4 linked regions of the Homo sapiens genome follow. The protein of the gene in region 3 interacts with the protein of the main gene of each other region in a pairwise test. Each region holds a gene or a part of one and is shown on either strand. Other genes may lie near its edges. The genes, in order: B3GNT7, RNASE12, GOLM2 and TMEM201.

Region 1 (5,794 bases), on a different chromosome or scaffold from region 3:
GGCCTAGCCCAGGTACCTGAGCACAGCGTTCCTCCAGAGGTCACCAGGACCTCCCACCACATCTGAGGGGGCCAGCAACGGACCCAGGTCAGGAGGGCTGCCAGGGCCTGGCGCCTCGCTCCTCAGAGAGGGCCTCCAGACTGGGCAGCTCCAACCGTTCCTGGGCCTCAGTTTCCTAGAATTATCCACACAGGGAGGTCCCTTTCTGGCTACCTGCACCCCACCACACCCAGTGGCACGTAGGCCTCAACCCTCCACCTCCCCTTGGGGACCAAAGGCTAGGCCTGGGCACTGTGGCTCCAGCCCCAATACCATGGGGGCTCAGGAGCAAGTGCCCTGGCCTGTCCTAGTAGCCCGGCTGGGGTCAGAGCACCTGGAGCTTGCGGGAGCAGGTGAGATTGCTGTGCACCAGCCCCCACATGGCGAGCAGCTCAGGGGGCAGCAGCTTGTGCACCACGAGCATGGCGCGGAAAAAGCACGGCTCCTTGTTCATGCGGCTGTTGCGGTTCCGGGAGATGCCGAAAGTCTTGAAGCCCTCGTGGGCCGTGGGCTGCACGCCCAGCACCTCCAGGCACATGCCCAGAAAGACGTCGTCGATCGGGTAGAGCTCCAGGGTGTCGCAGGCATGGTGCAGGCGCCGGGCCAGGCTGCCGGCCATGAGGAAGCCACCGCCGCCTGCATACGGCGGATAGCTGGCCTTGCCGTACAGGGCCCCCGGGATGTAGTATTTGTTGTCTTTCCTGCGAATGGGCCGAGCGTGCTGCAGGACATCGCCCACGAACAGGTTTTCCTGTGGCTGCCGGTCAGCCAGAAATTCTAGCAGGTTGGTGGGGTTGACGAAGACGTCATCGTCGCCTTTGAAAATGAAGGGGACGTGGGGGCAGTAGATGTCCAGCCACTTGAGGAAGTGGATCTCCTTGAGGGTCAGGTTGAAGAAGGTGTCGAGAAAGCCCCACTGCAGGATGTCGCCGTAGAGGCGGTCTTCGTAGGCCAGCAGCTGCTGGTAGTGCGTGCGCTCCTCCTGCTTGGAGGCCGTGCCCAGCAGGAAGAGGGTGCGCACGGCGCCTCGGCCCCCACCCGCGGACTGCCGCTCGCGGCCCCAGGTCTGGCGGATGGCCTCGCGGCGGTCGTGCTGCGTGATGACCGACTTGACAACCACCAGCAGGTAGACATCGCCCCTGCACTTCTCCGGGTGGTTCAGCAGCATGGGGAAGTAGCGGCAGTGGCGGTAGAAGAGAAACTGCCGGAACTGCGGCTCCAGGACCTGGAACCAGGGCTGGTGGGTCAAGTTGATATTGGCTGAGCAGTTAGTGGTGGTCACGTCCCAGGCCTGGGGCCCCTGAGAGGCCATGGGCGTGGGCGCAGCCACATCTTTCGGGTTCTTCCAGAAGTTGTTGGGGTTCACCAGCTGTCCATTTGGCTTCTGGGCCTTCTGTGGCTCCAGGGTGGGTGGCGGAGGCTCCTGCAGAAACTGACCAGGGGTGAGACTGCGTTGGAACACCGTCACGGCCACGAGCAGGGCCAGGGCCAGGCACAGACTCCGGTAGACGGTTTTCTTCCTGTGGGGGAGAGCGGACAGTACAGAGGAGAGAGAAAAGATGAGCCCAGGGCTCTCCTGGCGCCCCCCTTGGGAGGCTGGGTGGTCCCAGACGGGCAAGTGGACCTGGGCACAGGCTCAGTCCCGGAGTCCCTAAGCTGTCAGGGTAGGGTCCCGCTTCCTCTCCCACCCTGCCCTTTCTTTCTCCCACCCTGCCCTCTCCTCAAGGAGCACTGTGGAATCAGGCCCTGACGCTTACAAGCTGAATGAGTGGTTTACAACCACTCTGAGCCACGATTTCTTCTTCCCCCAAATGGGGCTAAAACACAGGATTGGAGTGCTATATAAAGTACCAGGCAGCGGGTGCACAGTTAGGGGAATGCTGTCACCTTAACAGGAGGGCCTCAGGTGGAAACCTCTGCCCTGTTCCCCACGCCTGGAACCCCAATGCCTTTCATTTCCCTGCGGTGTACCTACCCACAGCAGTAGGTATCGGTATCATTAGGTGACTCAGAGCCAGAGTCATTGAGAGGGCACCCTCTGATCCTCTGTGCCGCCCGGGAGCTCCATCACATGTGGGGCACATTGGAGAGTGGCTCGAGCTTGGGACCTGAGGAAGACTGGCCCTCCTCCCCCTTCTCCAGTCTGTCTCACCCAACAAAGAGCAGCCCTCATGGTTGATGGAGGCCCAAGGATGCAGTGAGCACCTCTAGCATGGCACTGCCCCTCACCCCTACCTTAACATCCCCAGCTCATAACACCCCATTAGAAGACATGAGGCTACAGCTCTACTCCCTGGGAGGGGGCACATTTGCAGCTCCAGCCCTTGAGGGACCCTTCTTGCCCAGAGACCCCCCCACCCCAACCCCGGTCCACACCCATTTCGGAAGCAGAAATTAGAGCTCTCTGCCAGGAGTGCTGGTCGTCCCAAGCCCTGGGGCCTGAGCCCCTGTCCTGAAGGACCTCCTCTCTTCATCTCACCCTCCGGGGGCTGCCAGGACACCTGCCCCACCCTCCCCAGTGGAGACCTGGGGGCTGAGAGCTCTGGGGACAGCAGAGTGGCCTTCCAGGGCCAGCCTAGCAGAGAGATGGCGCTGACCTCCAAGGGGGAGGAGCAGGGTGCCAGGAGAGACAGGCAGCCCGTGGAGACGCCTGGGTTGCCCTGAGGGCTGGTCCGGTTGCAGGTCCAGGCCCCAGGGTGAATGCAGGCTGAGCCCCATAGAGCGACATTTTCCCCATAGGGTCCCCAGGTTGCTGGGGCATGTGGTTGGAGGAAGACAGGGGCACCTTAGGTGCAGGCTGGGGGGTGTGACCCAAGGTCCAGCTCTCCGGGGAGGAAACGGAGGGCTCCGGATCCGGCCCTGCCAGCCCTAGGGGTTCCAGGGAAGCCGCCCACCGAGGCCGGGACGGGGGAGGTCGGGGGGTGCACCGGGAAGGCGGCGAGGCCCTGGGCTGCGGGCGCTCCACCTGCCGGGTCCGCTCCATTCGTAGGGAAAGCCCGGGAGGGGCGGAGAGGGGCCGGGCGGGCGGCGGTCCGAGGTCCCGCGGAAGGAAGCCCCGAGAGGAGGAGAGTGGCCCGGACGCAGGGGGCCCTCAGGGGTCTGGAAGGGAGAGGGGACCCAGCTGCCGGCAAGACCTGGGGTCCCAGCCGCCAGGGTCCTGGAGCGGTGTCCAGGGCCGCGGGGCCGGGGAGCTGAGCGCGGCGCCCCGAGACCCCTCGACGTCCCCCACGGGTCCGGGGCCGCGTACCGCGAACATCTCCCGCCGCCGCCGCCGCGCCCGCCCGCCCATCCGCCCCCGGGAAACTGAGGCCGGCGCGGCGCGCGCGGGGGCATCTCCTATCCCGGGAGTCCCGGCGCCCGTCTGTGGCCACGGAGGAGGGGGAGCCCCGGGCCCACGCCCCCGCCCAGGCCCCCGACGGCCCCCAGCCCCACTCACCACAGCGACATGGCGGCCCGGGCCGGAGCGGCGGAGGGGCGAGCGGCTCGCAGCTCTGGGCGCCACGGCTCGGGCCGGCGGGACGGCGGGCGGGTGGGGACGGAGACCGGGCCGCGCCCCCGCCGCGACTTTCCTCTTCCCGGCCGCGGGAGGAGGGGCCGGCAGGGGCGGTGGCCCAGGTGCCTTAACCCCTTCGGCGCCCAGGGCCCGCCCCGCCGCCGCCTGGCGGGGACCACCCCATTTCTCCGAGACGGCCCCTAGGCTCCCCAAGCGCGCCTAGTAGACAGTGCATGGCCGAGGCGGGGCTTCGGAACCCACGGGGGTCACCTCCAATCCCGGGGACGCCTGTCCCTGGCGGAGCCTCCCGGGGCGGGGGGAGGGCGGTCGCCGGTCCCTCCTGTACTTGTGCGAAACCTGAACACCCGGTCCCCTCCAAGACCCTGGGGCACCCCAAGGCCCAGCCATTTCCCTCTGGCCCCATTCGGACTTGTCTTTGGGGCCAGAGGCAGACAGGGTGTCCTTTTCTCCCTCTGCTACCTTCTGCCCCTGCACCTTTCCCCTGACCAGACGGACCCCTTGCCCAGCTGTTGGGCTACCTAGGGCCAGGAGCAAAGCCAGCCACTAGGGAAAGAGGCCGTATGAGACTGGGCTCCATGTCAGGACTCGCCCAGGCCTGTGGCTCTGGAAGCTTTTTTTGTGCCCCCACCATGTCCCTCTCTTCACCTCTGGGGTTCCTCCCACCTCTGAGGGCTCCCCACCACCAAGGGAAGGCCTGTTGGCCCAGCCCTATCTCCTTTCTTTTTTCACTTATCACTCAAAACCCTTTTTGTCCTCAAGCCTTTATTAGTCTGCTTGTGCACATCAGGCCTAGCGGCTCTGGGGAGTGGGCTGACAGAGAACACGGAGAGGGCTTGGTCCAGCCAGGTGACTTCCAGAATCCTCCAGCAGGGAGAGCCATCGCTGGTCCTGTTGTTGCTCAGGTTGTTCTGGTCTTGTTCCGGGTTGAGGTTTCGGTGCTTAGCATCCAGCAGGACCTCCAAAAGGCCCACAGAATTGAAACGGAAGCACGTTGTGGTCCAATCATAACAGCTAACGTCCACTGAGCAGCTACAATATGCCAAACCTGGTTCTCGGCCCATGCATGACTGGCTCACTTAATCCTAGAGACATACGCTATTATTCCCACCTTACAGGGGAGGAAACGGGGGTGCAGAGGGGAACTCCCAGCCAGCTCAGAGAACAGCGAGCCCAGAGTTAGTAAGCACATCCAGGAGGCCTGCATGGCCTGAAGGCTGGCTCTGAACCCTTCCTGCCTGGTCTGAAGGCTGGCTCTGAGCCCTTCCTCAACCTTTTTTCCTTTCCCAGGGACAGCAGTGACATGGAGCTACTTTCCTGCCCAGCACACAGGGAGGCTAGGAGTCCTCAGCTGGATCTTAAGCCCTCGAGGCCAGGGTGAGGAGCCCCTTCTGCCCTATCCTTAAGGTTCAAGGGCCCTTTGGAGGGGGAGGAGAAACTTAAGGTACCATAGAATGTTCTGGAATGTTGTAAGTGCCAATTAGGGAATGTGAAGGGCCTTTCAGGCAGAATTTCAGAGGAGTATCTTGGGGCTGATGTCCTTTGTAATGGCCCTCCAAAAGTTCCAGAGCAGGGGAGGGGCTGACCTGCAGCCCAAAGCCCCTGTTGGCCTGGCTGCCTGCCACTGAGGGCCACCCGCAGATTCTGCAGCTCCACGGCTCCCTTCATCCCAGTGTAGCCTTGGCCACCGGTTCCCGCAGGGCACCAAGCATTTTGCTCCACTGCCCAGCCTTCCGAGTTCCCCACTTCACCCTGCAAGTGTGGCCCTGGCTTCCCTGGCTCCACACAGGTGCCCTGCTGAGAGCTGCCTCCCTGGCTTCAGCACTGACCTCTCACCCGGTGCTGTGGGGTCTCCTCCTCCTGCTGAGGGGTGGACACAGCCGTCCCTGGGAAGGGGGTTTTGAGCCCATGTTTGGGGATGGCAGGCATGGGCGTTGGGTCAGAGTCTTGCACTTCCTGGTTGTCACTGGGGGCAGGTGGCTTTTCCCCTTGAGACCTCAATTTCCTGCCAGCTCAGGGCCTTGTGAGATGACGCCAATGAAGCACAGACATAGGCATCCCCTATGTAAAGAACTTGGTGGCAGGCCGGCTACTGTTAGTGTTATCATTGATGTCCAGCTACTCCACAAAGCCCCAGAAGCACAAGGGCCAGAGGAGGTGGGAGCAGAGGGAGCTGCCCAAGGTCAGCGGAGTGTTTGCCAGTGGAATCTGGTCAGTTGAGACAGGCAGTTTGTCATCATGGAA
Region 2 (4,876 bases), on a different chromosome or scaffold from region 3:
CATTAGCTACTGCGCCCATTCTGAATTAGTTTTAATTTGATGCAGAAGAAATACTGTGGCATTTTGTTAGATTCTACACCCAGGAGTGGGATTAAAAGGTCTCAGGTCAAACCCTTAATCTTACCAAACGTTTCCAGATTCCTTTCTAGTATTGCCACATCTATTTTTATGCCCAGCAATGTTTTTACCAGCAGTTGATATGATCTGTTTTTCCAATTCTTGATAATCATTTTTGATAATCTGATGGTTATAAACTATTTCTTTGTTATTTCAAGCTTTCATTTCTTTAATTACTAATGAAGTGGAGCATTGCTCATTACCCATTTTGGCTTTATCTTCTGAAATTGGCTTTTCCTTGACTATTTTTTTTTTCCCCTGGGGTTTCCTGTCTTTTTAGGGCTGACATGAAGGAGTTTCTTATATGTAGATGCTAATCTACATATAAATCTAAAACCACAAATGTGGTTTTAGGCATTACAAATATTTTCTTCCAGGCTGCCACACTAGTTAACATTTGGACTCAGTCTCAACTCCTTTTGCAGTGTGATACCCTAGGGATAGGTTTAGTTGCCTCCTTTGGGGAAAATCTTTGTAACGGGGATTACTTCTCTGCCTGTACACTTAGTAAATTATCTGTACTTCAGCTACTTGGAAGTTCTGGCAGGAAATAATGAACATGTTACAGTACATAGATATAATTCTCTGTATACATTGGAAATGTTTCTGCAAGATGTACAAAATCAAATTTTGTTAATTGAAAATCATGTCAAAAATTAAGCATGCACTTATATCTTTGTGGCATTGGGTAACACATATCCAAAACAGGATAGTCTGAATTCTGAAAGGGCACCCAGAATGGACATTTCTGGAAGTAAATATATTCTCCTGGTTGCTCATTTTCACAATTTGAAATTTTGCTTTCGTTTTTGTATAGAAAGAAAAGCATTCTTTGAAGGCTTCTCCAGGATTCTGTTTTTCCTAGATAATTTTTTACGCTGCGATTATTTTCTTCCTGCCAATTAGAAAGACACAGATATGCACAGAGGAGATTTTGTACCTGTCGCTCCAAAAGAGAAATGACTTCAGGGCATGAAGTAGTAAAACTAAGTCCATTTGCCCGTTCCTATATCAACTAACTGGGAGATGATAGCAACAAAAATAATTCTCTGGTCTCAATACTTTGAACCACTGTGTTTTAGCTAAGCCTTTATCCACTAATCTCCCATGTGGGTTTCCCATGTATACCATGGTTCAGTGGTTCCCCTTATAACTTTTGCTATATATTAGAATCACGTGGGGATCCTTTAAGAATCCCCAACCCAGATCGCACACAATATCAGTTAAAGCAGAATGTATCAAGGTGGAAGCCAATACTTTTTTAAATCTCCCGTTGATTCCAACGTTCAGCAGTTTGGGAACTGTCTCCATACTCCTCAGAAGCCCAGGGCTTTATCAAGATTAACGTTATTACAAGGGAATTGTTTTTGTCCTGTGCTGGACGCCGGGTGGAAATGAAACTCGCTAAAACTGGAATTCGAGTGTTTGGCACTGAAAGGATGGGACTCTTGCTTTCCTTCTCACTTCCCATCTCCACCTTAACCTTTTCTACAACTCATTTATTTGTCAATGAAATGAAAAATTTCATGTATTTGTCATAAGGACTGATTGAAAATTTAGAAAGGAGACAGTACTGTGGCTGGCACACATTGGCCTTCACTAAATGTTCTGAAAAGTCCTCACTTGTTTAATGAGGACACATTCAGGACCTGCCTTACCCGACTGTCCTGCTGGAGGTAACTTCTCTTCCTCCCCAGCGGTGCCCAAGCACACCCTGTGCGGGTCCCTCCTTTCTGCTCTTTCTACTTTGGCCCTCCCCACATTCAACAACAGGCTCTCTATCAGTTATTGTCAGGGAACAGCAAGACACAAGCGATTTTGTCAAATTCATGATCAAAAGGCTATGTTACCTGTGACAGTGACCAGAAAAATGACAGGTGAGAGGAGCTAGCACAGAGCCAAGCAGGATTGACAGAGGGAGGGACTTGGAAGGAATTGGGAAGAATAGATGAGTAGAAGGTACTAAAATCATGTGCAATTGGGTGGATTTAAGGTTGAGAAAATTACGGGAAAGAAGGTTATTCAGCAATATGAATAACCTTGACCACTTTCTATATGTCTAGCTCTGTGTTGAGCACTTCGAAGGATTTGAGAAATAGGAGATGTGGTATCTGCTGTCAAAGAACTTGTAGAACAAAACAAACACAACAGGAATAATTTAGAGAACAGCTCAGTACCAAACTCTGAGAGCTGGCATGTTCAGAAAAGGCTTTCTTGGGGAACTATGCCTCCAGCTGGATCTTGCAAGGTCAGTGTGATTTTAATTAGTGGAGAGAAGGAAATAAAATATTCCAAGGATGGGGGAGCAGCCAGGGGTTGGAGCAGGAGGAATCTGACTGTCCTTTGCTACTTTCTATCTTCCCTTACTCAACAGCAGTCAAAGCCAAAGATGCGAAGTCACTCTTACCTCTGATGATAATAATGGTGATAATTTTCTTGGTGCTTCTGTTCTGGGAAAATGAGGTGAATGATGAAGCAGTGATGTCAACTTTAGAACACTTGCATGTGGACTACCCTCAGAATGACGTTCCCGTTCCTGCAAGGTACTGCAACCACATGATCATACAAAGAGTTATCAGGGAACCTGACCACACTTGTAAAAAGGAGCATGTCTTCATCCATGAGAGGCCTCGAAAAATCAATGGTATTTGCATTTCTCCCAAGAAGGTTGCTTGCCAAAACCTTTCGGCCATTTTCTGCTTTCAGAGTGAGACAAAGTTCAAAATGACAGTCTGTCAGCTCATTGAAGGCACAAGATACCCTGCCTGCAGGTACCACTATTCCCCCACAGAGGGGTTTGTTCTTGTCACTTGTGATGACTTGAGGCCAGATAGTTTCCTTGGCTATGTTAAATAACTCAAGATCAGCTCCCGAGTCTGAGATCTCTTCTCTCAATGGCATTGGAGCTGGCTGTGCCTGAGGCAGACCTGGACCGTGGACATGGGGCAATGCCTTGAGCGGAAGGGGAAGCCACTGGTAATTAATTTATCCTTCCTGTATTGCTGGGTTGGGATTGTTTTATTCTGCTTCAATAAAATAATCTTTACTGAATTAAACCATAAATTCTACATGTGTTTCCATTTTTTGTCCCTTATCTCTAGGTCCTTTGATGAGAAACAGGACTGAGATTAAGATAAAGGGAATGAGCCACTCACTTGAGGTGCAAAACTTAAGAGGGCACCAGAAGACCAAAAACCTAGTAACCTAGATGAATATATTTGATTTCAGTGTTTCCTTTTTCTTTTTTTGAGACGGAGTTTTGCTCTTGTTATCCAGGCTGGGGTGCAATGGCACGATCTCGGCTCACTGCAACCTCTGCTTCCCGGGTTCAAGTGATTCTCCTTCCTCAGCCTCCCAAGTAGCTGGGATTACAGGCATGTGCCACCGCGCCCGGCTGATTTTTGTATTTTTAGTAGAGATGAGGTTTCTCCATGTTGGTCAGGCTGGTCTCAAACTCCTGACCTCAGGTGATCTGCCCACCTCAGCCTCTCAAAGTGCTGGGATAACAGGCGTGAGCCACTGTACCTGGCCTTGATTTCAGTATTTTAAAACAATCAAAATTAATGCAAAAATCTTGGATGCTCGCCGGGCGCGGTGGCTCACGCCTGTAATCCCACCACTTTGGGAGGCCGAGGCGGGTGGATCACGAGGCCAGGAGATCGAGACCATCCTGGCTAACACGGTGAAACCCTGTCTCTACTAAAAATACAAAAAATTAGCCGGGCGTGGTGGCGGGCGCCTATAGTCCCAGCTACTCCGGAGGCTGAGGCAAGAGAATGGCGTGAACCCAGGAGGCGGAGTTGCAGTGAGCCGAGATCGCGCCACTGCACTCCAGCCGGGGCGGCAGAGTGAGACTCCGTCTCAAAAAAAAAAAAAAAGAAATCTTGGATGCTCAAAATATCTATCACAAAATTTTGAAGATCCAATCTGACAAGGCTAGGATCAGGGTAAGATGAGTTATGTGAGAAACGTAGTGCAGGGCCAGATCCTGGTATTTAAAATTTTAACATTTGTTCATCAGGGATTATTTTGCATTAAATTTATTTTCTGGCCAGGCGTGGTGGCTCATGCCTGTAATCCCAGCACTTTGGGAGGCTGAGGCAGGTGGAACACTTGAGGTCAGGAGTTTGAGATCAGCCTGGCCAACATGGTGAAACCTCCTCTCCACTAAAAATACAAAAGTTAGTTGGGTGTGGTGGTGCACGCCTGTAATCCCAGCTGCTTGGGAAGCTGACACAGGAGGAGCGCTTGAACCTGGGAGGTGGAGGTTGCAGTGAGCCGAGATCATGCCATTGCACTCCAGCCTGGGCAACAGAGCAAGACTCTGTCTCAAAAATAAATAAATAAATATTTTCTAAAATTGTTGCATTAAAATATTATTTATCTTGATTATTGAGTTTTGTGGCACTCTCTTAAATTTTGGTCTTAGAGTGAGTGTCTCATTAACCTCAGCCTAATCCTAGCTCTGCTTCTAGCTGTAGAAGCAACAGAGGTCACCTCTTAGGGTCTTTTTTAAAGATAGCATATACAACTCAGGCAGCATCTGTTCCTGTTCAGCAGCTCCCTTTGTGTCTTGAAATAAAGAAAGGAGCCTGACTGGTCTGAAACCATTTCCCTTAAAGACTTTAGAGAGACACAGATAAGGATTTCCCAGGGAGGGATTGAGACTTTCAGAGCTCAGTGACCTCCTCTTTGTGTCTCCAGAAGGAACAGAGAGGACTTTGAGCCGGACTACTAACTCTTTTCTCTTTTTAGTTCT
Region 3 (5,228 bases):
TCCAGGATCTCAGAATGTAACTGTATTTGGAGACAAGGTCTTTAAAGTGCTTAAGTTACAGTGGGTCTAATCCAATATGACTCGTATCCTTTTAAGAAGAGGAAAAGACACCAAGGATGTGTGCATACAGAGGGACTATCATGTCACAATAAAGCAGCAAGAAGGTTGCCATCTGCAAGCCAAGGAGAGAAGTTCAGAGAAAAACAACCCTGCTGGCACCTTGGTCTTAGACTTCCAACCTTCAAAAATGTGAGAAAATAAATTTCTGCTGTTTAAGCCACCTAGTCTGTGGCATTTTGTTATGGCAGCCCTAGCAAACTAATACACCCCTCCAGGCTGAAACCCTTTAGAGGGAAGTTTAAAAAATCAGAAAGTTTGAGGGAATCTCAGAGAAGTGGGGGTTGTTTCTCACTTCTTTGGACAAGACAGGAGCAACTTAAAGCTCCCTTAAAGAATTTCCATGTTCAAGGCCGGATGTGGTGGGTCATGCCTGTAATCCAGCACTTTGGGAGGCCAAGGTGGGCAGATCACTTGAGGTCAGGAGTTAAAGACCAGCCTGGCCAACATGGTGAAACCCTGTCTCTACTAAAAAATCAAAAATTAGCCAGGCATGGTGGCATGCACCTGTAGTCTCAGCTACTCAGGAGGATGAGGCAGGAGAATCACTTCAGCCCGGCGGGTGGAGGTTGAAGTGAGCTGAGACTGCGCCACTGCGCTCCAGCCTGGGTGACAGAGTGAGGCTCCATCTCAGAAAAAAAAAAAAAAAGGAATTTATGTGTTTAGTAACCCAGGTAACAGACTGGAAGTGACAGAATGGCATAATAATGTGAAAGAAACCAAATATCACCTTTCTGATTCCTCTGGAGAAAGGATTCCTTGATTTCCAAAGATAACCTTATAGTAGCAACGAGCATATCTGCCAAGCAGACCTTGGTTTCTTTTTTTTTTTTTGTGAGACAGAGTCTTACTCTGTTGCCCAGGCTGGAGTGCAGTGGCACAATCTTGGCTCACTGCAACCTCTGCTTCCCAGTTCAAACGATACTCCTCCCAAGTAGCTGGGATTACAGGCGCCCCCCACCATGCCCGGTTAATTTTTGTTTTTTTTTGTGGTGGTGGTGTTTTTTTTTTTTTTTTTGAGATGGAGTCTCGCTGTCCTCCAGGCTGGAGTGCAATGGCGTGATCTCAGCTCACTGCAACCTCTGCCTGCCGGGTTCAAGCAATTCTCCTGCCTCAGCCTCCCAAGTAGCTGGGACTACAGGTGCGCACCACCATACCCGACTAATTTTTTGTATTTTTAGTAGAGACGGAGTTTCACCATGCTAGCCAGGCTGGTCTCGAACTCCTGACCTTGTGATCTGCCCACCTCGGCCTCCCAAAGTGCTGGGATTACAGGCGTGAGCCACCGTGTCTGGCCCAATTTTTGTATTTTTAAGTAGAGATGGGGTTTCACCATGTTAGTCAGGGTGGTCTTGAACTCCTGACCTCAAGAAATCCACTAGCCTCAGCCTCCCAAAGTGTTGGGACTACAGGCGTGAGCCACCGTGCCCAGCTGCAGACCTTGGTTTCTAATGCCATTCTCCAATAAAAGGAACCAAGGTTCCTTGGAGAAATGGTTGACTCTAGGGCTGGAGTAGGAAACGTATAGATAGGCCTAGAGCATCTAAAAGTACCAAAAAGTAAGAAAGGGGTATGTCACAATGAAACTGGGTGTAGGGTATGTGGAAATTCTCTGTACTTTCTGGCACTATAAAAGTAAGAAGGGGATACAGGAGTTAATGAAGGAGCTCTCCAACAGCCAGAGCCAGAACAATTTGAGCAACAAAAAAATAAACTAATATTGGATTATAAGCCAAAGTACAAAATAAATATCCATGAGTCCATACCGATACAAGTAAATTATTAAGTTAATAAATGAGGGAGAAGAGACAAATCTCCTTTGCAGAAGAATTCCATATAGTTTATGTTGATACTCTGTCCTTAAGGAGGAAAAACATAACTACCCACTCATTAAGTGAGGGTGAACATACTTTCTTCCAAAGTGTACAGTATGGAAACAGATTTTTTTTAAGAGTACATTATAGTGGAGAAACCTGACAAGCACTATCTCACGCCAGGTGATAGAGGTTAACATAAGTAGTGATAAATCATTTTGAAAAACATACCCATGTTATGATGTGTTGAGATTGGTACTTTACTTCTGTGGTCTTTGTCCGAAAACCCACAACTCCAGTCTAATCCTGAGAAAAGACTCAGACAATTCCCAATTGAGGGACATTCTATATAAAACACCTAATCAGTAATCCTTAAAATTGTCAAGATTATCAAAAACAAGAAAAGGTCTAAAAAACAAGGAAAGGCTGAAAAGAAGCTTCAGAAGACATAATGTCTAAATGTAACGTAACTCTGGATGAGATCCTGGAATTAAAAAAGGACAGCAGGCGAAAACTGAAGAAATCTGAATAAAGTACGGACTTTCATAATAAGATATCAATACTGGTTCATTAATTGTGACAAATGCATCATACTTATGTTAAGATGTTAATAATAGGGAAGACTGGGTGTGGGGTATATAAAAACTCCCTGTACTATCTTTGCAATAATTTTCCAGATCTAAAACTGTTAAGTGGCCAGGTATGGTAGCTCACACCTGGCACTTTAGAAGGCCAAGGCAGGAGGATCACTTGTTTAGTTTTCCAGATCTAATTTTCCAATAATTTTCCAGATCTAAAACTGTTAAGTGGCCAAGTATGGTGGCTCACACCCAGCACTTTAGAAGGCCAAGGCAGGAGGATCACTTCAGGCCAGGAACTGGAGACCAGCCTGGACAAGATAATAAGACCCTCATCTCTACCAAAAAATAAAAAATTAGACCATCATGGTGGCATGCACCTATAGTCCCAGCTACTTGGGAGGCCGAGGTGGGAGGATCGCTTGAGCCCAGGAGTTTGAGGCTGTAGTAAACTATGATCGCACCACTGCTCTCCAGCCTGGGTGACAGAGCAAGACCCTGTCTCAAAACAAACAAACAACAATAACAATAAAAAAAACCCTGAAAAACTGTTAAGTTTAAAATACAGAGACCAAGACTACCCTTTCTACTAAGCAGCTCAGAGAGTCCTCATTAACCCCAAGAACAGACATTCACAAGCAGCCCAAGAAAGTTGTTATAGCCAGCTCAAAATACAGAAGTGGCACACCAAGTGCTGTGGCACACACCTAGAATCCCAGCACTTTGTGAGCCCAAGGCAAGATCACTTGGAGCCAGGAGTTTGAAAGCAGCCTGGGCAACATAGCAACACCCTATCTCTACAAAACTAAAAAAAGAAAAAACTTTTAAAAATATACAGAACTAGCCGGGTGCGGTGGCTCACGCCTGTAATCTCAGCACTTTGGGAGGCCAAGGCTGGTGGATCACGAGGTCAGGAGATCGAGACCATCTTGGCTAACATGGTGAAACCCCATCTCTACTAAAAATACAAAAAATTAGCCGGGCATGGAGGTGGGCGCCTGTAGTCCCAGCTACTCAGGAGGCTGAAGCAGAGAATGGCGTGAACCCAGGAGGCGGAGCTTGCAGTGAGCCGAGATCACACCACTGTACTCCAGCCTGCTTAACCGAGCGAGACTCTGTCTAAAAAAAAAAAAAAATATATATATATATATATGTATGTATACACATATACACACACAGAACTGACATTCAATAAGAGATACAGTCTTGTGAGCCAGCTGCATAAAATATTAGCCAAACACTTAAAAGTAGTTAAGATACCCAGGGCAATATTTCCCAAACTAGTGGGCTTTGCTATATTATTCTGTGCCATAATAGGTAGGCCATGAAAATAGTAACCTGTGATCAAATAAACTAAACAAGACTGAGTTAAACAAAATTGAATAGCCTTCTTTATTAATGGATTTCTCAGAGCTTTTATATTCCAGCAGGCATTATGAATTCCAAGAGGAGGATACACTAACATTTCCCTCCAAAAAAGGTTTTCATTTTTTTCTCCTCACCACCTAAGAAATATTACAAGAAGGGTATTCTGTTTAACACTACTTTGGGGAATACTGCTCTTATGGGAGAGCAAAGGCTCAATAACAGAGTCCCTTACTAGGTGACTGGAAAGAAAAAATAAATCCAGCAAAGAATATAGTGAAGAAGATAAGACTGGAGAGTCCAGTATAACAGAAGCAAGAAAGAAAATAGTTTCCAAATAGCTAGAGACAATCAACAGGATCAAACTACTGGGAGGTCAAATACAGTAAGAATAAAAATATTCTTTGGTTTTGACTAGGAAGACTGCCATTTGTGACCTTCAAGAGAATAGTTTCAAAAAAGGGGAGGAAAGAAAGATGGCAGACATTTTAAGATTAGGATGGTTATGAAAAAATAGGTAGATGGAACATTTGTAGACCATCAATAATTTGACTTTAGCAATGAAAGTGAAAAAACAAATGGGTTGGTTGGGAGAAAGGAATATACAGATTTTTTTTCCTTTACTGAGAACAGGGGACACCCACATACTGTTGAAGGTAAAAAGTGAAACAAACTGAAAGAGACAGTTCAGTAGAGCTGGGCAAGGTGGTGCACACCTGCAGTCCCAGCTACTCAGAGGCTGAAGCAGGAGGATCACTTGAGCTCAGGATTTCAATGCTATAGTGCATCATGCCTGTGTAACAGCTACTGCACTCCAGCCTGGGCAACACAATGAGACCCTGTCTCTTTAAAAAAAAAAAAAAAAAAAGAGGCTGGGCATGGTGGCTCACACCTGTAATCCCAGCACTTTGGGAGGCTGAGGCGGGCGGATCACCTGAGGTTGGTAGTTCAAGACCAGCCTGACCAACATTGAGAAACCCCTTCTCTACTAAAAATACAAAATTAGCCAGGCGTGGTGGTGCATGCCTGTAATCCCAGCTACTCAGGAGGCTGAAGCAGGAGAATTGCTTGAACCCCGGGGGGGCGGAGGTTGCAGTGAGCTGAGATCACGCCATTGCACTCCTGCCTGGGCAACAAAAACAAAACTCCGTCTCAAAAAACAACAACAACAACAACAACGACAACAACAAAAAGTCCAATGGATGAAAGAATGGAATCAAGAGTATTAATTACAACAAGAGACTTTCCTTTGAGACCAGAGAGAAGAATGTGAATTGTAATGCTCAACCATGCCAAGTAGGAAGACCTTACTTTAATACTCCAAACTTTCATGGATTTCTACCTACTCTGCCCG
Region 4 (5,228 bases), on a different chromosome or scaffold from region 3:
GAGATTGAGACCACGGTGAAAACCCGTCTCTACTAAAAATACAAAAAATTAGCCAGGTGCCTGTAGTCCCAGCTACTTGGGAGGCTGAGGCAGGAGAATTGCGTGAACCCGGGAGGCGGAGCTTGCAGTGAGCCGAGATCACGCCACTGCACTCCAGTCTGGGCGACAGAGCGAGACTCCGTCTCAAAAAACAAAACAAAACAAACAAAAAAACCTCACAATAGGAATTTTTGGTGAGAACTTCACAAAATGATGGAAACAGTTATTTGGAGGCCGGGTGCGGTGGCTCAGGCCTGTAATCCCAGCACTTTGGGAGGCCAAGGCGGGTGGATCATTTGATGTCAGGAGTTCAAGAGTTCAAGACCAGCCTGAGCAACAGGGTGAAACCTCGTCTCTACTAAAATATAAATATTAGTCGGCTGTGGTGATGCGTGCCTGTAATCCCAGCTACTCAGGAGGCTGAGGCAGGAAAATTGCTTGAACCCGGGAGGAAGAGATTGCAGTGAGCCGAGATCGCGCCACTTCACTCCAGCCTGGGCGACAGTGTGAAACTGTCTCAAAAAATAAAATTTAAAAATAAATAAAAGGCTAGGCATGGTGGCTCACGCCTGTAATCCCAGCACTTTGGGAGGCCAAAGTGGGAGGATCACCTGAGGTCAGGAGTTCAAGACAAGTCTGGCCAACATGGTGAAACCCCACCTCTACAAAAATATAAAAATTAACTGGGCATGATGGCGGGTGCCTGTAATCCCAGCTACTCGGGAGGCTGAGACGGGAGAATCGCTTGAACCTGGGAGGCAAGGTTATAGTGAGCCGAGATCGTGCCACTGCACTCCAGCCTGGGTGACAGAGCAAGACTCTGTTTAAAAAAAAAAAAGGACGGGTGCAGTGGCTCACATCTGTAATCCCAGAACTTTGGGAGGCCAAGGCAGGCGGATCACCAGAGATCGGGAGTTCGAGACCAGCCTGAACAACACGGAGAAACCCCGTTTCTACCAAAAATACAAAATTAGCCAGGCGTGGTGGCGTGTGCCTGTAATCCCAGCAAAACTTTATCTCAAAAATAAAATAAAATAAAATAAAAATAAAGGGGCTCAGCTCTGAAGAGCTACCCTCTGGTCACTAGTGCCCAGCCTCCTGGGAGGGTTTCCTGAACAAACTCAACACCCCCACCCCCGCCCTGTGGATGCCGCCTCTCACCTGTGCGTGGGTCTGGTCGGCCTCCCGGCGCTTGAACTGGTGGCTGAGCAACAGGGCGCGCAGCTGGCGGTTCTGGTGCTTGATGTAGTACTCCACAGCCGCTTGGCACGGCCGGCACAGCTTGTACATCTGCTCCAGGTGATGCCGGTACACCTCGACCTCCTCGTCATACCTGCCCTGTGGGGTTGGGGGAACAGGCTCGGCATCTGCAGGGGTGGATGAGCTGCCTCCATCTTACAGGTCAGACGTGGAATCAGATCCTGACCTGCCACTTACTAGGGGATGACCGGGGGCAAGTCAACCCCACTTTGAACCTGCTTCCCCTCTGCCCAACAGGACAAATGCCCACTGTGTAGAGCCATGTGGACTACCGGGAGTTAGAGCCAATCCAGGGCAGGGCCCACAAGTGATGGGGACACTAACAAGGTTCTGTTGCTCCAGGGACGCACCCGCAGGCCAGGAGCTCAGGGTCTGCTCCCCAGATGCAGAGCTCCAAGAAGGTGGGTGAACATGGGGGAAGGTGGCTGCGGGCTGACACTGCCTGGAGTGGGGCAGATGGACAACCCCGACTGTGGCGCTTGCCCTTCCGCTTGAATGCTAGAGAGCCCCTGGCCAGGCCTGTCTTTGTGGCAGGTGAAGGTTTCTTTCAGCTTCTGAAATAGCCCAGAAGACAAGTCCCCTCCTTCTCAGCCCTTAGACGTGCAGCACTGCAACTCTCCCTCCCTGTTTCTGAGGAAGCAAACGTTTTGGCCTGCAAGGCCAGGAGGGTCAGGAGTGTGATCCCTTGCTGCGACCAAGCATGCCGAAAAGCTGCCTGGCTGCCAAGTCACCCCTGCCTTCCCCTTCTCGCAGGTTCCCCATCCCTGCCTTGGCCTGAGTTCACCTCTGTTCTCCCTCCCTCCCAGGCTGGACCCCAGGAAAGCCAGTGTCTCTGGGCCCCAGCTGGGACCTGCCTCTTGAGGTGACAGGACTCCCTGGGCTGGCCGAGGGCAGGAAGGAGCAGCCAGTAAGCAAGGCTCTTGGACTCCATGGAGGGCACAGGCAAGGTGAGGCTCCCAGCTCAGCCCAGCTCCTTAATGCCAAGCCTCTCAGCAATGTCTAGCTTCCTCCTCCTCCCAGAAGCCAGTGGCATCCTCCACCAACCCCACAGCAGACTGCCGGGGCCACCAGCAGGCAAGGCTGATTCAGAGAAACAGGACAGAGTGGGTCCAACAGGGCCCCACCTGGAACCCAAGGTCCCTTCCTCCCTCTGCCCAGGGACAAATTCCTCTGGACTGGCAGGTGCTGGGGTTTCCACGGTGTTCCTAGGCTTGGAACCCCGATAGCAGTGACTGTAAGACATGGGGAGAAGCAGCTCAGCTCCAACGGGGTCAGAAGAACTAACACATCCTGGAATGTGCTGGCAGTGGCAAGGATGAGGGGGCCCCTTTGGGCACTCAGAACAGAAAAGCCGCTGTCTAGCAGAGCAGGGGCCAGAGGACCAGAGTCAGCACCCTGCACGTGCCTGTCCCCCGGCTGCTCTAAGCATCCCTGGCCCCAGCCAGGACCCCTGCCCTCCCAACCCGGCCTCACCTCCTCGCGGGGAGCGAAGGCGGCCAGCTGCTTGATCTTGGTGGTCTGGTGGTGGTTGCACCTCTTGCACAGCAGGACTTGGCTGCTCACCCACTGCTGCGGCTGCGAAGGGTCGCGCAGGCTGGGCGCGCTGCTCACCACGTGGTTCAGGTGCTCCAAGTACTGGGCGGGGATCGGCTTGTTGTAGTCGCCGTTCTGCGGGAGAGAGGTGGGACTCGAGGCAGGCAGGCCCTCCCAGCTGGCTCAGGCTTGGTGATGTCCCTGGGGGCCCGCCCCGCTCCAGGCAAGTGATGGTAGATCTCAAACATCTCCATTCTTTTTTTTCTTCTGCACACAACAGCAGCTGCTTTTCTTCTCAAGACACCTCCATGGAACCCAAAGGCCCAGATGCCGAGTGAAGCCACCTAGCCTGAGCACAGAGCAGGGCCTGCAGCCCGCCGCCCACCCACACACCTCTAGCCAGCATCTGTCCTCAGAGCCCTACCCTCTCGGAACTCAGTCTGCAAACCCTGGTCTAGTCCAGGGGACAGCACACTATGACCCGTGGAGGAGCTGCCTGTTTCTGCAATCAAGTTTTATTGGAACACAGCCAGGCTAATTCACTCTTGTATTACCTACGGTGGCTCAGCAGGGTTAGCAGTTGTGACAGAGACCAAATGGCTTCCAAAGCTTAAAATACTATCTGGCCCTTTGCAGAAAAGGTTTGCTAGCCCTGATATAGTACAGAGAATGAGATGCAGAGCCAGAAAGACCTGGGTGTGAACCCCAAATCTGCCACTTTTAGTGGTGTAACCTTGGACAAACTGCCATGGCTCCCTGCGTCGGGTTCCTCCTCAAGTGAGGAGACAGCGCCAGGGCAGTGGTGAGAATCGAGTGAGACAATGTACACGAAACACCATGCTCAGGGCCTGGAGAGGACAGGGTATGAGGGTGTGGGGTCCATGAGCCCCGGGGCAGGGCAGGGACACAGGGTGGTCTCAAGGTGCAAATCTCAAGATCCCCACCCCCGCGTGCCCACCCGTCCGCCTGCCTGTGACCCACACCTCCTGGAAGCCGTTGTACTGCTCGCAGTGGGGACAGTCCCAGCAGTTGCGGTTCCCATAGGGCACCAGCGTATCCTGGTTGCAGAACCAGCAGTTGACCATCGTGTGCGTTGGCTTCATCCTGTGGACCAAGGAAAGAGCGGGTTGGCCTGGAAGACCCCAGCACCTGCTGGAGAGGGACCTCCATGCCCTGCCCCAGGGCCACCAGGGAAAGGGTGCTGGGAGTGGGATCTGGGATCTGGGGATGCAAAGCTGGAGATGCTGGCCCCAGAACAGCAGGAGGAACAAGGGCTCTGAAGGAGAGGAACGCAGACTAGGTACGGCTGCATCCACCCAGGACCAGACAGGGAGGCCACGGCCAACCTGGGCTTCTCAGTCTTCAAGGGGAGGAGGCCAGCTGGAGCCTCAGCAGATCCCTAGGCTCCAGTGCGGCCGCACGGGGACCCAGGGCCACCTGCTCCTGGTGGCCTGGGGCTCACACATGGAGCACAACAGGGGCCAGGGCTGGCCAAACCAGGGCTGACTGGGACCAGGTTCGAGGACCACCCCTCCCCCACGAGGTCCTTGATCCTGGGCTGCAGAAAGGGTGCGCCCCAGGGAGCCTCCAGATTGAAAGGGGCCTCCTGTGCTCCAGAGAGAGACAGTCCCAGGATGTGAGAGCCAAGGAGGCTGAGGGGAGGGAGCAAGTGACAGCTGCCCAGCCTGGGGCCAACCCTCTCTGGTGGAGAGGACAGTGGCCCTCGCTGGCTACACGTGTGGTGACAGGTGGGGCCTCGGGATAATCCCAGCCCAGACACTGGGGGATCTATGCTCTGGGCCCCCCTCTACCCACCTCATTGGTTGTGGGACACTGGGGGACTGGGGAGGGGTGGGCAGAGAGACCGCCACTGCCCAAAAAAGCCCCCCAGTTCCGGAAATCCAGGAACAATGTGGGTGACAGGCAGCAGCTGTGGGAGCCCTGGGGCCCCGGCTTTGCTGCTCCGACTCTCCACCTCTCCCCCAGGGGCCACCTCCAGCTCGAGGACACCGCTTGAGCCCCTGCCAGAGTGGGCAGCCACTCCCTGCACAGACGGCCCCCCGTCCACAGGACCAGAGAGCACGGCCCTCTGGCCTTTCATCCTGAGGCGCTGCTCAGAGAAAGGAGGACGGAGCCCCAGGAAGTTCCTGTACTCTCAGCCTCAGTGTCCACATCTGTGAAGTGGGGGCAACCACAGCACCCCCGGCTTCTGCATGCTGCAAGGACGCAGTGACACAAGACAGAAAGGTGCTGTGCTCTGCAAAGAGCCAGCTCTGTCGCTAACCCATCGGGCTGGCCAGGGGCCTGAGGGGGAGGCTGGGCCCTGGGAAGCAGGGCTCCCGCTTCTGACACTACTGCTGCTGCCCGGCCCTCCCCTCCACCCCCTTCTCCTGACC

The links.
Region 1: the proteins of GOLM2 (region 3) and B3GNT7 interact in a two-hybrid assay, tested with the Homo sapiens proteins (one large-scale study listed by BioGRID).
Region 2: the proteins of GOLM2 (region 3) and RNASE12 interact in a two-hybrid assay, tested with the Homo sapiens proteins (one large-scale study listed by BioGRID).
Region 4: the proteins of GOLM2 (region 3) and TMEM201 interact in a two-hybrid assay, tested with the Homo sapiens proteins (one large-scale study listed by BioGRID).

The regions. Positions count from the first base shown.
Region 1 is NC_000002.12:231,393,496-231,399,289, reverse strand, and holds the start of B3GNT7 (UDP-GlcNAc:betaGal beta-1,3-N-acetylglucosaminyltransferase 7), read right to left. Parts: upstream 3,581-5,794; 5' UTR 3,487-3,580; coding exon 3,476-3,486; intron 1,560-3,475; coding exon 365-1,559; 3' UTR 1-364.
Region 2 is NC_000014.9:20,588,377-20,593,252, reverse strand, and holds RNASE12 (probable inactive ribonuclease-like protein 12 precursor), read left to right. Parts: upstream 1-1,876; 5' UTR 1,877-1,994; intron 1,995-2,491; 5' UTR 2,492-2,529; coding exon 2,530-2,973; 3' UTR 2,974-3,180; downstream 3,181-4,876. UniProt on the Homo sapiens protein: Does not exhibit any ribonuclease activity.
Region 3 is NC_000015.10:44,290,619-44,295,846, reverse strand, and holds part of GOLM2 (protein GOLM2), read right to left. Parts: intron 1-5,228.
Region 4 is NC_000001.11:9,594,598-9,599,825, reverse strand, and holds part of TMEM201 (transmembrane protein 201), read right to left. Parts: intron 3,937-5,228; coding exon 3,816-3,936; intron 2,968-3,815; coding exon 2,773-2,967; intron 1,378-2,772; coding exon 1,201-1,377; intron 1-1,200. UniProt on the Homo sapiens protein: Critical regulator of angiogenesis and endothelial cell (EC) migration. Promotes the migration of endothelial cells, which is essential for angiogenesis.